Linked DNA regions of Homo sapiens. The protein of the gene in region 1 interacts with the protein of each later gene in a biochemical or structural test. Each region holds a gene or a part of one and is shown on either strand. Other genes may lie near its edges.

Evidence for each region.
Region 2: the proteins of SLC2A1 (region 1) and WWP1 form a complex in vitro, tested with the Homo sapiens proteins (one study listed by BioGRID).

Annotation. Positions count from the first base shown.
Region 1 is NC_000001.11:42,931,369-42,935,185, reverse strand, and holds part of SLC2A1 (solute carrier family 2, facilitated glucose transporter member 1), read left to right. Parts: intron 1-3,817. UniProt on the Homo sapiens protein: Facilitative glucose transporter, which is responsible for constitutive or basal glucose uptake. Has a very broad substrate specificity; can transport a wide range of aldoses including both pentoses and hexoses.
Region 2 is NC_000008.11:86,432,866-86,436,682, forward strand, and holds part of WWP1 (NEDD4-like E3 ubiquitin-protein ligase WWP1), read left to right. Parts: intron 1-2,586; coding exon 2,587-2,662; coding exon of another isoform or gene 2,663-2,671; exon of another isoform or gene 2,672-2,673; intron 2,674-2,767; coding exon 2,768-2,839; intron 2,840-3,817. UniProt on the Homo sapiens protein: E3 ubiquitin-protein ligase which accepts ubiquitin from an E2 ubiquitin-conjugating enzyme in the form of a thioester and then directly transfers the ubiquitin to targeted substrates.

The DNA.
Region 1 (3,817 bases):
CACCTGGACAGAGATCTGTAGTAGCCCCTCAGCTCTAGGCTGGCCGACACCATGGCAGTCCCCCCAGGAACTAACCAGAACCGCTCCTCCCTCCTCAACACGCTTGCCGCCACCCAGACTCCACAGCTGGGTGAAGAGACTGGGCTGGGAAGGGAGCAGAGAAGCGGGTGGATGGCCGAGCCTGGCACATTTGGTGTGCAGGACTCCGACTGCATTCTGAGGGGTGGTTCACTGTGGGAAATGGGGTCTGACTTTGGTGGATAGGAAGAGTCGGGAGCAGAATCCAGATGAGACCCAGGGCAGGCTGCCTGGGTAGAGAAGTAGGACAGACTCGGAGGCAGAATCGAGAGGACCTGGTGATGGATGGATGTGGGGTGGTGGCAGCATCAAGTGTTTAAATCCTAAGCTTGGGACGGGCATGTGAGGTGGGAGCGTTCAGAACAGGCACGTGCCAGGTCTCACCTCACACATGACCCAGGGTTGCGGAGGCTGCTGGGAGCCGGCGGGATTGGGCCTGTGGGATCCTGTCAGGGCATAATAAGTAGACTCTTCTTTCCTGAGGTGCACCCAGACACTTCTAGGGAGGATGTGACCCCAGAGCTTTTCCCCATGTAGGGTTCTTCTCATTCTCCAGCATCCCCCTGCCTTTCCTGGGCCAAGAGTCAGCGTGGAACCCCATACGAATCCCCAGGGAGGAGAGGGCACAGAGCACCGGAACCAGCAGTAGGAATTGGAAAACCAGGCGTGGCTTCTTCCCAGAAATCTCAGGCATCAAGAGGCAGAAACCCACTCCCCAGCCTCAGCTTGGCCAGGAAGTGCTGCTGTGGGCTGGAGAGGATGGGTCTAGGCCAAGGTGAACATGCAGAGAGCTGGCTGCTCACCCTTCCTCCACCCCATAAAGTGGTCTGAGTAACAGAGCAGCTAGGCAGCGTCCAGGAGCCAGCCCTGGACAAGGTTGGGTCCCTTTGACTGTGTGACCACAGGCAGGAGACGTAACTCAGGGTGGAGCTCTGGTCACACCTCACTTACACACAGCCCTCTTGTCAGTTGCCCCAACATCTCAAGAGATCTTCAAGCTTATTTAGGTAGTTTCAAGCCTTACTTAGCACCTATTTACTCTTTCTTTGTATACAATTCAAACAAATTCCATTTGCTGACTTCTTGGCAAATTTCAAAAGAGGTGTGGAGAGTTGTACAAGACAAGCCTCTGAACCACAGAGGGTTGGGGGAATACCTTAGAACTATGGAATGCAGAAATTTAGCCATCAGGAGCCAGTCTGCACAGGGACAAACACCTCTCCTTGCCCCTGGAGAGAGCCCCAAGGGCAGACACCATTGCCCTGCAGCCCTGCTTGTAGGTCTGGTTGCTCAGGAGAGCAAAGTGAAATCTCTTCACATTTTCACCCCATAATGGGTCAGGAAAGATTGGACCCTCAGAAGGGCAAGCGCCATTTATCTGGACCGTTCCCATATCCACCCTCATTCAGAGCAGCCTGTTCTTGGTGGAGCCTGATAAACGGGGCATTACCGTTCCCAACCAGTCCTCCTCTGGGGTTAGTTTCGTCCACAGAAGAACACTTTGCATTTTGTTACTCTGTTTTTTGTCAAAATCTGCCTTCTGTCTGCCCCCAGCAGAATCAAGGGGTTCTAAGAGGAGAGCCTAACACCTTTGGTTCGATTCCTCCATTTCCTCACCAGGTATCCCTGGCACTGGCTCTGGGACAGACCATGGTGTGAATCAACTGTCTTCCTCAGGGAAGACAAACTCCTGGAGTCAGGGAAACCTGGATCTCGAAAGGTTTCAGCAATAAGGCCAGGGGTACCTTCCAGGCAGGAGTAGTAGCATCTCAAAGGCGTAGAGGGGTGGGAGATGGTGTGTAGTGAGTGCAAAGGTGTGGTAGGTAGGGAGATTGGATTGATACCTGGCAGGAGCCCCGATTTTGAGTTACGGGTTGAAGGCTTGGGGAGACTCTGTTAGTGGTCTGCACAGCCTTCAGGCCACCAGTGTGCAGTGGGGTGATTTTAGGGATGATGACACCAAGCACTGTTTCACTGATTCCCTGCAGCACTGTGAAGCAGCTCCTGCTAATGTCTGCACTTTAGAAATGGGGCCATGGAAACTCACAGATGAAATAACTTGCTCATGGTCACACTGGAAATAAGGGGTGGAGCTAGGACCTGAATTTAGTTGTGTCCAGAATCAGAGTTCAGGTTTCTATTCACTGCCCTGCATGGCGTCCTTGGAACGGACAAGCAGATCCTTAGGGCTTGCCTCTGCCCTACCAACTGTCCTCGCCCCTTGGAGCCTGGCCTCCATCAGATGCCTGCTGACTTGGGACAGGTTGTGACAGGGCAGGGGAAAAGATGGCTAGAGGCTGAGCACCCACAGCAATGGGAAGGAAGGCACCAGGAGGCAGGCCCAGCATATTTGAATAGGTGGGCATTTCTGGGACTGCAGGCTTTGGTTTGGCAAGTGTGCCTGCCCACACCTTCTTCTTCTGCTAGACCTCAGTGGGTTGGAAGGGATAGGGAGGACCAACAGCAGTGATGGAGGCTGCAGAGGCTGCATACCGCTGTGTGTGCATGAACCTGTGGCATGCACACACACGGAGGGGTGTTGGGATGGGTTGGGTTCACATGGAATTGAGTTTGAGCTGTAAGTGGTAGGGGATGAGGGGCATGTGAGTTTGTGACTGGCTAAAGCAGGAATATTTAGATTCTATGAGCACGGGTATGTGTGTGTGATGGTATACGTGCATAAGAAGCCGTTTCTGGGTAACTAGGGCCTGCACTCTGCTATACGTGTGGCTGGGTGGGTCTGGCCAGTCCCATGGCACTGAGAGTGTGGTGAGTGTGCTCAGGCAGAACGGGTGCTGCCTGCCTACCACATCCGTGGGAGCTGGCCAGGGTGGGGGCAGGGCTGGTGGGCAGGGCTGCCCTAGGACGGGCGTTTCCAGTTCCTGGAACTGCTTCCTTGTGTGGAACCTTTCCCCATACCTCCTAGCTGGGCCCTTGGGAGAGGGGAGGAGGCCGTGGGTCCTTCAAGGGGGTGCTCGCAGGCCAGACACAAGGGAGCTAGGCCTGGGGAACAGAAAGCCACAGCGTGAGTCTTTCAAGCACTTCTGAAGGGTGACATGTGTGAGTTTGTCACACCAGGCCCTCAGTGCGGTCAGGGAGTCTGTACTTCCTGGATGGCGGAACCTGTCTGTCAAGCCCTGCTTCCTCCCCAGCAAGGGGTTGGGGGGAGGGCCTGATGGCAGGAGATGGGCCCCTGGGGCTTTGAGACATGGTGAGGAGAAAAGGGGCAAGTGGGAAGACCCTTTTCCTTCTGTATTTCTCTTTTTTTTTTTTTTTTTTTGAGACATAGAGTCTCACTCTGTCACTCAGGCTGAAGTGCAGTGGCACAGTCTTGGCTCACTGCAAACTCCGTGTCCTGGGTTTAAGCAATTCTGCCTTAGCCTCCCGTGTAGCTGGGATTACATGCTTGCGCCACCACGTCCAGCTAATTTTTTTTTTATTTTTAGTAGAGATAGGGTTTCACCATGTTGGTCTGGCTGGTCTCGAACTCCTGATCTCCAGTGATCTGCTTGCCTTGATCTCCCAAAGTGCTGGGATTACAGGCGTGAGCCACCACACCTGGTCTTGTACCTCTCTGTTCTATGCCTGAACTTCCACCACTGATCACTTGCCATCATCCCAGCAAGTCACACTGAGCCTGTGAAACCACAGGGCACTGGAAACCACACGTTAGGGGAAGTGGGAGAGTTGGCGGGGCTCTCAGATGAACTCCAACCCCTTGTTTCTCGCCTGGGGAAAG
Region 2 (3,817 bases), on another chromosome or scaffold:
CCAAAGTGCTGGGATTACAGGCGTGAGCCATCACACCCAGCCCACAGTTCATTTTTATTGCTCCCCTTTACAGGAAAGCTACTTGCATGGTTGTCTCTGTATTGCTGTTCATAGTTTCTCCTTTAAACCAACTCCAAGGAAGTTCCCCTGACACTGAATTTGCAAGGGCACCAATGATCTTCACATTGTTAATCCAGGCGTTGGTTTGCAGTCCTGCCTGATTTGACTTACCAGGAACATTTGACACAATACATTTCTCTCTCCTGGCAAAAGTAGTGCTGTGAGCCATACTTTCTTGATTTCCCTCTGCGTTTCTGTTCTTCTATCTTTATTTTGTCGAGTCCTCCTTTTTTTCCTAAGCCTCTTTTTTTTTTTTTTTTTTTGTTAACTACATTCATTCTCTTGATGCATCTTACTCAGTATTATGCTTTTAAAACATGTGCCTGCTAATGACTCACAAATTTAGCTCAGACTTCTCACTTGAAATTTTGCTTTCTATATTCAGCTGCTTATTGACATCTCCACTTGTAACTCCTTCTTGGTAGGTCCTGTAAAACCTGCTCTCTGGCCAGGCATGGTGGCACACACCTATAATCCCAGCACTCTGGGAGGTTGAGGCGGGTAGATCACTTGAGCCCAGGAGTTTGAGACCAGCCTGGGCAACATAGCAAGAGCTAGTCTCTAAAAAAAAAAAAATTATAACAACAACAACAAAAACCCAGCTCTACCTGTGATATTCCCTGTCACAGTTGATAACTCCACTCTAGCAGGTGCTTGGGTCAAAAATTTTGAAATCACCTTGTTATGGTGGCTCACGCCTATAATCCCAGCAGTTTGGGAGGCCGAGGCGGGCAGATCACCTGAGGTCAGGAGTTCGAGACCAGCCTGGCCAACATGGTAAAATTAGCTGGGCGTGATGGCGTGTGCCTGTAATCCCAGCTACTCAGGAGGCTGAGGCAGGAGAATCGCTTGAACCCAGGAGGCAGAGGTTGCAGTGAGCCGAGATTGCACCATTGCACTCCAGCCTAGGCAACAAGAGCGAAACTCCATCTTAGGAAAAAAAAAAAATGTAGAATCATCCACAACTCCTCTATCTCTCCTACCTTACAAACAGTCCATCAAGAATTCTAGTTACCTCAACTTCAAAACATATCTAGAATCCAGCTATGCCTCACCACCCCCATTGCCACCATTTTGGTCCAAGCTACCATTATCTGTTGCCTGGCTTGGTAGCAGAGTCCTCTCTCTGCTTTCTTCCCACACCTTGTACAATGTTGTTACTCTCCATACAGCACAGAGACTGAATTTCCAAAACAAAATTTAATTAAAAGTCATTTATTTGCACAAAACCCTTCAGTGGTTTCCATCTCAATAAGAGTAAAAAGCACACTTTACAACAGCCTAAATGGCCTTACAGGATCTGACCCCTCTTATCTCTTCAACCTCCTCTTGGTTTTCGCTCCTCCTCATTCACCGTGTTCTAGCTTCATTGGACGCTAGCTGTGCCTTCAACACCTTCAGCTTCCACCTTGGGTCTTAGCCTTTATTCCGTCTGCCTGGTATGCTCTTTTCCCGAAACTCCATATGGCTTTTGCCCTCTCCTTCATGTTTTTGCTCAAATGTCACTTTGTCTGTGAGCTCTACTCCTTTTACCCTTTTGAAAATCACAAAATGCTTCTCATATCACTCCTTATACTTTGTCCTTTTAACAATGCCTTTTTTATTGTTTTATTGTTCTAGGTCAGGAGTGATAAGACATTTGTACTTTACTTATTTATTATATTTTTTTGTCTTATCTCCTTCACTAGTATATAAGCTCCACAAAACAGGCATTTTTACCTATTAATAAGTAATGCTGTCACTGTCTAGAAGAAAGCCAGGTACCAGCTATGCATTCAGTAAATGCTTTTTGAGTAAGTGAATTCACTTGAACCTGACAACACAAGAGAACATTTTTCATCTGTTCCAAAGTGTTCCTTAACATTATGAAAGTTCTTTGTGCCTGTCAGGCCCTCAATCAATAGGCAAGAGATCCAGGCTCTGTCACTGTGAGTCAAACCATATTGTAAAACCTGTATTCCTAGGTGCCGTGCCACCAACTCTGCCTTTTCTCTCACTGACCACGTGAACCGTGTGATCTGGATGACAATGTTGTTTCTAGGAATTTGATTTTGCTTTGCTTATTATCTCCAGGAATATTTGTTTGGGTTTTAGGTTAGGCTTAGGATGTGGTAGAATTTCCTTCCACGTCTCTTCTGTCTGGAGCCTCTGTCCTCCTTAGATTTAAGGATTATCGAAGATTTTCTTTGAAATAGTCTGTAGTAGACTTTGATATTTCATTTAACTCACTAACAAAAGATCCAGCCATAAATACAATGTCCTTCTTTGTGTATATGTGTGTCCTGTTGCTGTAATAGTCCCCATTACTTGAGCTTCTTTTGGCCCACCATGTATGTATACCCTTCTCTCCCAGCAGAAATCTTCCTGTGGTATTTTGTTGGACTTTAGTACACTCTGATTTTATACTGAATACTAAATATTCAACTTTATTATGAGTTAATTTGGTTTATTTTTGTTTTTCTTTAGAACTAAAGGTGGTCCACAAATTGCTTATGAACGCGGCTTTAGGTGGAAGCTTGCTCACTTCCGTTATTTGTGCCAGGTACTATAGTGGTAAATAAATCTTATACTCAATAATTTAGTCTTCTCTTTATACAATACATATACTATAACTCAGATGATATTATGATATTATTTTTGTTTTTAGTCTAATGCACTACCTAGTCATGTAAAGATCAATGTGTCCCGGCAGACATTGTTTGAAGATTCCTTCCAACAGGTAAGGAGGATTTTAGCAGAATAAAACACCATTTGTCTCATTGTATTCTGTGCATCTAAAGAAAGTCAGGGTTTTAGAGATTTTTAAACCACCCAGAACACAGCTATAATAATAATGACTGCCACCACCACTTGTTGAGTGCCTTTGTTTTGTTTTGTTTTGTTCTGTTTTCTTAAATAGAGATGGAATTTCGCCATGTTGCCCAGGTTGGTCTCAACCTCTGGGCTCGAACGATCTACCCACCTCGGCCTCGTAAAATGCTGGGATTACAGGCTTGAGCCACTGCATCTGGCCTGAGTGCCCATTTTAATCATAGTTACACTAAACCTTCCCATATACTGAGTGATTATCATTTGCAAAACACCGGCATCTTACATTTCTCATTTTATTTCATTCGTCCTCACAGCATCCCTTTGAGATAGCACTTATTGTATCTCCATGTTATAGGTAAAGGTACTGAGACTGAGAGACATATCATGAATTTAGATGTGTATTTACTAAAATAAAGCTTAAACAGCTTTTGGAACAAGTTGATTCTTGTTTTGACACAATACTTGGCTAAGAATTTATTACCTCAAAGTTTTGATAATGCTATCAAATTAAAATTAAATTGGTAGATACTGTATTCCATTTGAGAATTCCTTTAATAACTTTATTTTCACCTTTATGTTTCTGTTTAAATGTGATCTCAGAGAGACCTTCTCTGAGCCTACTATTTTAAGATGGCAGTCCTTCTCTTCTCCCTCACAGTCACATTCCAGCCATTTATGGTGCTTTATTCTTTTTCATAACCACCCAACATAGTGTATTTTGTCTTCCTTACTAGAATGTGAGCTCCATGAGAGCAGGGACTATTGGTTTACTGCTGTTCTGCCTAGTACGTAGAATAGTGCCTTTGCACATAGAGGGTATTCAATAAATATTTGATGAACAAATAAATGAATGCAGTATTTCTTCCTTTCATGAGTCATCTGCAGA